Linked DNA regions of Homo sapiens. The protein of the gene in region 1 purifies or fractionates together with the protein of each later gene. This does not show direct contact. Each region holds a gene or a part of one and is shown in the gene's direction. Other genes may lie near its edges.

Evidence for each region. The genes of interacting proteins can lie anywhere in the genome.
Region 2: the proteins of KPNA6 (region 1) and CARD19 purify together in Homo sapiens (affinity purification with western blotting; one study listed by BioGRID). This does not show direct contact.

Annotation. Positions count from the first base shown.
Region 1 is NC_000001.11:32,111,056-32,114,555, forward strand, and holds part of KPNA6 (importin subunit alpha-7), read left to right. Parts: intron 1-3,500. UniProt on the Homo sapiens protein: Functions in nuclear protein import as an adapter protein for nuclear receptor KPNB1. Binds specifically and directly to substrates containing either a simple or bipartite NLS motif.
Region 2 is NC_000009.12:93,106,217-93,109,716, forward strand, and holds part of CARD19 (caspase recruitment domain-containing protein 19), read left to right. Parts: intron 1-1,457; coding exon 1,458-1,600; coding exon of another isoform or gene 1,601-1,611; intron 1,612-2,774; exon of another isoform or gene 2,775-2,876; intron 2,877-3,500. UniProt on the Homo sapiens protein: Plays a role in inhibiting the effects of BCL10-induced activation of NF-kappa-B. May inhibit the phosphorylation of BCL10 in a CARD-dependent manner.

The DNA of each region.
Region 1 (3,500 bases):
AGCTGGAGCTTCATCTTTCAGTGAAAAAAATTTAGGGGGTTTTATGTTATAAACTTTGTTATAAATTTTATATTGGTCTTCAGTTTCAGAAACACTGTTGCCTCAAAGGGAAGGAACTAATGTTTAATAAGCTCAGTGAAATAAGTAGAGATTTACTCAGTTTTATAGATTGGGAAACTGTCTCGGAGAAGATAACACAGCCAGTAAGCCACAAAGCCAGGAGTAAGATTCTTACCCATTTTGCAGCACATAAATCTATAAGACTTAAGAAGTTAAGAAATAAAGTTAGTCCTATTCTGGTACAGTTCAACATGAAAGTTCTTCAGTGGAGCAACAAACCCTGACCAAGGTCTTGAAGGGGGTTTTTAGCCTAGAGTCAGGTAACTTCCTCTTTCCAGCTCCATCTCAGGTACCTCTCCCTCATCGTAGCTTGTCTTTATGAATGTCAGCTTTTTGTTTGTTGTAGACCAAACTAATGCATTCATTTAATTCTAACATCTAATCTAAGGTATCTTGGGTTATCTCCATTTACACTTATAAACTGAGGCTTTGAGAAGATTAGGTGACTAGTCCAAGGCTGGTATTCTGGATCCTTTGGGCACTGGAGACACTAACACAGCCTGCCTTCACATGCCCACAAGTACGGAACCTGCCGTATTTCACTGCCTCTTAAGTGTACTCTCAGTCTGTATCCTACTAGCTCAGTCGTATATCCTACACTATTTCTACTATGCCAAACTTCATTACCCTTAACAGACCTTTGCAGTGATTTCCCTGCCACTAGGTGCCCTGTAGGGGTGATATTTGTAGCTCTGGAGATTGCTTTATTCTGACCCTCTAGCAGAGACTACAACCTCATGAGTCTTGGCAGACACTACTTGTCTTTTCACCATTACTACTACTGTGCTAACTGGGAATCTGGCCACCCTTCCTTACCCCAAGGGGTGGGTCTTGATATAAACTCTAAACCAATCATTGTAACTCTAGCTCCCTAGACAGTGATTGATTTAGGCATGGGCATATGATGCAGTTCTTGCTAATTAGATGGGAAGGGAAGCCTGGGGAACTTGTGGAGAAGCCTTCCTTATTTAAAAGAGACTTGCCAGCTTTTATTTTATTATTTTTTGCCAGTTTGTATTTTAACCCAGGTTGCACCAAAATGTGTGAACCACAAACAAAGACAGAGATGGGAAAGCTATAATAATAATAATACCCAACACTTGTATAGAACTTGCTATGTGCTAGGTACTCTTCTAAGTAGAGGCATACCTCAGAGCTAAGGCAAGTTTGGTTCCAGACCACTGCAATAAAGCAAATATAATAAAGCAAGTCACATGAATTTTTCTGTTTTCCAATGCATATAAAAGTTATCTTTATACTATACTGTAGTCTCTTAAGTGTGCAATAATATGTAGAGTAAAAGTACCTCTTTTATTTATTTATTTATTTATTTGAGACAGGCTGGCCCTGTCTGTCACCCAGGCTGGAGTGCAATGGCGTGATCTCGGCTCACTGCAACCTCCGCTTCCTGGGTTCAAACCATTCTCCTGCCTCAGCCTCCTGAGTAGCTGGGATTACAGGTGCCCACCACCACACCCAGCTAATTTTTGTATTTTTAGTAGAGACGGAGTTTTACCATGTTGGACAGGCTGGTCTTGAACTCCTGACCTCATGATCTGCCTGCCTCAGCCTCCCAAAGTGCTGGGATTATAGGCATGCATGAGCCACCATGCCCAGCCAAAAGTACATATCTTAATTAAGAAATCCTTATTGTGAAAAATTGCCATTTGGTGAGCTGTAATCTTTGCTGGTGGAGGGTCTTACCTTGATGTTGATGGCTGCTGAGACTGATCAGGGTGGTGATTGTCTGGGGTGGCAGTAACAACCTATGAAATTTGCCACATCAATTGATTCTTCCTTTCACCACAGATTTCTCTGTAATGTGATACTGTTTGATAACATTTCTCTCTGCCATAGACCTTTCAAAATTAGAGTCAGTACTCTCAAACCCTGCCACTGCTTTATCAACTAAGTTTATGTAATGTTCTAAATCTGCCGGTCTTGGTGGCTCACGCCTATGATGCCAGCACTTTGAGAGGATGAGGTGGGAGGACTGCTTGAGCTCAAGAGTTTCAGACCAGCCTGGGCAACATAGTGAGACCCCATCTCTAAAAAAACATTTAAAAAATTAGCTGGGTGTGGTGGCGCGTGACTGTAGTCCCAGCTACTCAGGAAACTGAAGTGGGAGAATCACTTGAACCTGGGAGGTTGAGGTTGCAGTGAGATGATTGTGCCATTGCACACCAGCCTGGGCGACAGAGCAAGATCTTGTCTCAAAAAAACCCCAAAAATCCTTTGTTGTCATTTCATGTATGTGTGTATGTATGTATGTATATATGTTTTTTTTATTTATTAAGACAGGGTCTCACTCTGTCACACAGGCTGGAATGCAGTGGTGCTATCAACAGCTCACTACAGCCTTGAATTCCCAGGCTCAAGCAATCCTCCTACTTCAGCCTCCCGAGTAGCTGGGACTACAGGCATGCACCACCATGCCCGGCTAATTTTTTAAATTGTTTTTAAAGAGTGTTGCCTAAGCCTGTCTTGAACTGGGCTCAAGTGATCTTCCTGCCTTAGCCTCCCAAAGTGTTGGGATTACAGGTGTGAGCCACCTTGCCCAGCCTATTGTCTTATCAACAGGATTAACGGCATTTTCACAAGGAGTAGATTCCATCTCAAGAAACCATTTGTTTGCCCACCCGTAAGAATAGCTGCTCATCCATTCAAGTTTGATCGTGAGATTGCAGCAATTCAATCATATTTTCAGTTGTCTAGTTATCACATTTTCACTTCTAGTTATCTTGCTGTTTCCACCCCATCTGCAGTAACTTGCTCCATTGAAGTCTTGAACCTCTTAAAGTCATCCGTGAGGGTTGGTATCAACTTCTTCCAAACTCTTATTTATGATATTTTGACTTCTTATGAATCGTGAATGTTTTTATAAGACCTGAAAGTTGAAATCACTCCTTAATTCATACAGAATGGATGGATTCTGTATAGCTACAGAATGGATGTTGTATTAACAGGTGGGAAAACAACATTAGGCCGGCGCAATGGCTCACACCTGTAACCCCAGCAATTTGGGAGGCCGAGGCGGGCAGACCACTTGAGGTCAGGAGTTCGAGACCAGCCTGGCCAATGTGGTGAAACCTTGTCTCTACTAGAAATACAAAAAATTAGCCTGGTGTGGTGGTGCACACCTATAATCCCAGCTACTGTGGAGGCTGAGGCAAGAGAATTGTTTGAACCTGGGAGGTGGAGGTTGCAGTGAGCTGAGATCACGCCACAGCACTCCAGCCTGGGCGACAAGAACGAAACTCTGTCTCAAAAAAAAAAATATATATATATATATATATATTCAGTAAATCAAGCTGTAAACAGATGTGCTGTCATCCAGGCTTTATTCCATTTATAAAGCATAAACACAGTGGATTCAGCAT
Region 2 (3,500 bases), on another chromosome or scaffold:
TCTTTTGTAGACAGCACTTAGTTGTATCATATTTTAAAAATCCACTCTGCCAATCTATGCCTTTTGATAGGAAAATTTGGCTGGGTGTGGTGGCTTACACCTGTATTCCCAGCACTTTGGGAGGCTGAGGTAGGCAGATCACCTGAGGTCAGGAGTTTGACACCAGCCTGGCCAACATGGTGAAACCCTGTCTCTACTAAAAAAAAAAAAAAAATACAAAAACCAGCTGGGTGTTGTGGCACATGCCTGTAATCCCAGGAAGAATTGCTTGAACCCAGGAGGCAGAGGTTGCAGTGAGCCGAGATTGGGCCACTGCACTCCAGCTTGGGTGACAGAGCAAGACTCTATCTCAAAAAAAAACAAAAAAAAAAAAACAAAGTTTAACCTATTTGCATTTGAAGTAATTGCTGATAAGGAATGTATTACTACTGCCATTTTGCTATTTGTTTCCTGTATGTCTTGTAGCTTTTTTGACCCTCATTTATTCTATTACTGCCTTCTTTTGTGTTTTGTTGATATTTTATAGTAACACATTTAGAGTCCCTTCTCAGTTTCTTTTGTGTTATATTCTATAAATATTTTCTTTGTGTACATGGGGAAACAGGACAAGCTGCCACAAGTATGTAGGGTGATGCACTTGTTCAGTCCCTGTGGGGGTCCTGTGCCCCATCCTCTCCATGCCCTTCCGTCATCACTCCACCGCTCAGCCTTAAACATCTGCCATTCTAAGAAACATTCTTAATGGAAAAGGTGGTAAAATGATATTTTAATGGTGATTCTGGAAAAAAAAAAGGCAAATGAAAAGCATTTCTAGCCCTCTGGGAGAACTCACTGGTTTATTGTTGGTAGAAGCTTCTTAAGGCCTTGCAGACACACTGTGTCCCATGGTGATCCCAGCACAGGCCACCCTGAGCCCTGTGTCCCTGTATCTGTGCCACTGTGAAGATCTGCAGAGCGCACATCTGGGCATTCTTGATCTCGAACTCCTGAGCTCAAGTGATCCACCCACCTCAGCCTCCCAAAATGTTGGTATTACGGGTGTGAGCCATCACAACTGGTCTGAGCCACCGTGCCTGGCCCTGGGCATTCTGAGCCACCTGTGCCACCTGTACCTTCCCCAGAACTGAGCTATTTCCTGATGGCCCTGCAGGTGGCCCATGAAAAGTAGATTCTTCGCCCCTCTGAGTTTGTTTTCTGTGATAAGCTCTGTGAAAGTGGGTTTCCACCGCAACCCCTCACTTCCATCTTCTGGAGAGGCAGGTTGGCAGGCCAGGGGCAGCTCTCAGCTGGGCAATGCGCACCACACAGGCTGGGATGGCTGTGATTCTGCAGGTTCACCCTCCTGGTGGGAACCCACCTTGGGGGTGATGCCTTCCTGTGGTCAGTGTCAGTACGAGGCTGTCGTCTCTGGTCCCCTTGGGCTGTGCTGGCTCATGACCCTGTGCTATCTGTTTTAGATCAGACCTATTGTGACCGCCTGGTGCAGGACACGCCTTTCCTGACAGGCCATGGGCGCTTGAGTGAGCAGCAGGTGGACAGGATCATCCTCCAGCTGAACCGTTACTACCCACAGATCCTTACCAACAAGGAGGCGGAAAAGGTGCTGAGGAGGTGAGGGGGGTACCCGAGACACTGCTCAGTTTCCCTTCCTTTCTGGGCTGGGAGAAGCTGGTGACCAGCCCTGGGTCATTCTCTCATGGGATGACACACTAGGTATGTCAGGATTCAGAGGTGACACATCTGGACCTGGCTACTAAGGCTGCCTGAGCTACAAACTGGCCCTTTGGGGTGAGCCCAACCAGGCTCGGAACATCAGCTCTCTGTGCCTCGGTTTCTTCATATGTCATTGGGTCTGCTGTCCCCTTCCCGAGTTGCTGGGAGGTTACAGGAGATAACATGTGACAATACATGAAGCACACAACAGTATAAGATACGGAGGGAGGCGAGAAAGAGGGCAGGAGGGAGGGGTGAGGAGGGAGGAGGCAGAGGGAGAGCCGAAGTGGGATGGGGAACAGATAATGGGCCCGGCCCACCCCAGTGCCACAGGGCTTTGCACTCTGCATCTTCCGAAGGTTCAAAGCGGGCAAACAATTGCTTCCTTTTCTCTAATTTCTATATTACTGTACGAGGCTGGAAAGCCCAGCATGTCACAGGTAGGCAGCTGAGCTTCTAGGAAGGCAGATGCTGACTCACCCCACAGCCGCGCCCCAGTCTGCCCCTCTCAGCAGTGCTGAGCGGGCTGGTCCCCTCAGAACCCCAGCCTCCCCCATGTGTGGAGTGGACACCGAGAGCCCCTGCCTGGCAGGTGTGGTGAGGACTGACTGAGCTGAGCCGGGTAAACGCCTGCCCGAGAGCCCTTGTCGCCAGATGGCCCTGCAGCCCTGTGGGCAGCCACGCTCATCACCCCATCTCACAGAGGTGGTCCGAAGGCTCAAGAGGCAGCCACTTGCCCAGGGCCACTCATTTCAGGAGTGTCAGGCCACATCTTGAGTTCATCCTATTATTTGGGAAAGTGCCCAGGGCCAGTGGCTGTCACTCTGTCACATGGCCCTGGCCTCTCAGAGCTGCAGAGCTGGGCACACCAGGGTGGCTCTGCTGGAGATGGCATTTAAGATGCAATTCCTGGGCTCTGTCTTGGGAGGTCTGTTCTGCTCCATCACCCCAGTGCCAGGTGGCCCTGAGGGGACATTGGATGAGAGAGTTAGCCACACCCTGCCGACCCTACCCACATCTGTGGCTCTGGCGCCCCCACTGAGCCACCTGTTCCTTGACAGGTGCCACGTGCAGGGCTATCCTGAGGGTTGGGGCATCTCCTGGAACAATGAGGTTGGCCCACAACAGAACAGGAGTCAACACGGGCCCTGCTACTGGCTCAGGTGCTTCTTCCGTTTTGAAGGTGGTACAGTAATTTTAAAAGTTAGGAGCTCAAATCCAAATCTCTTATTATTGCAATTGAAGTCTAATGCATGTTCACTTTTAAAAAGTTTAGAAAGTTTAAGACGTTTATACAAGAAAAAGCACATATTCCTTCCTCACAGACACCACAGCTCCTGCCACCCATCTGCCTGCCATTTTCACACTGCCATGGTTTAACTCCAGTTCCCTGTGGCCATGTAGAATGATATGCTGCCACCAGGTGGCAGCACCAGGCCACAGACTCCAGGTCCTGGAGGTCAAGGCCCAGTGGCCTGTCCACTGACCTTGAGAACCACACATTTCTCTGTCATACACATCAAAAGAGCCAATACTTCTGTCTTTTTTTTTTTTTCTTTGAGATGGAGTCTCTGTCGCCCAGGCTGGAGTGCAGTGGCATGATCTCGGCTCAGTGCAACCTCTGCCTCCCAGTTTCAAGCAATCCTCTGGCCTCAGCCTCCCAAGAAGCTGGGATTAAACATGCACCATCATGCCCAGTCAATTTTTTGTACTTTTAGTAGAGATGGGGTTTCACCGTGTTGGCCAGGCTGGTGTCAAACTCCTGACCTGGAACTCCTGATCCGCCT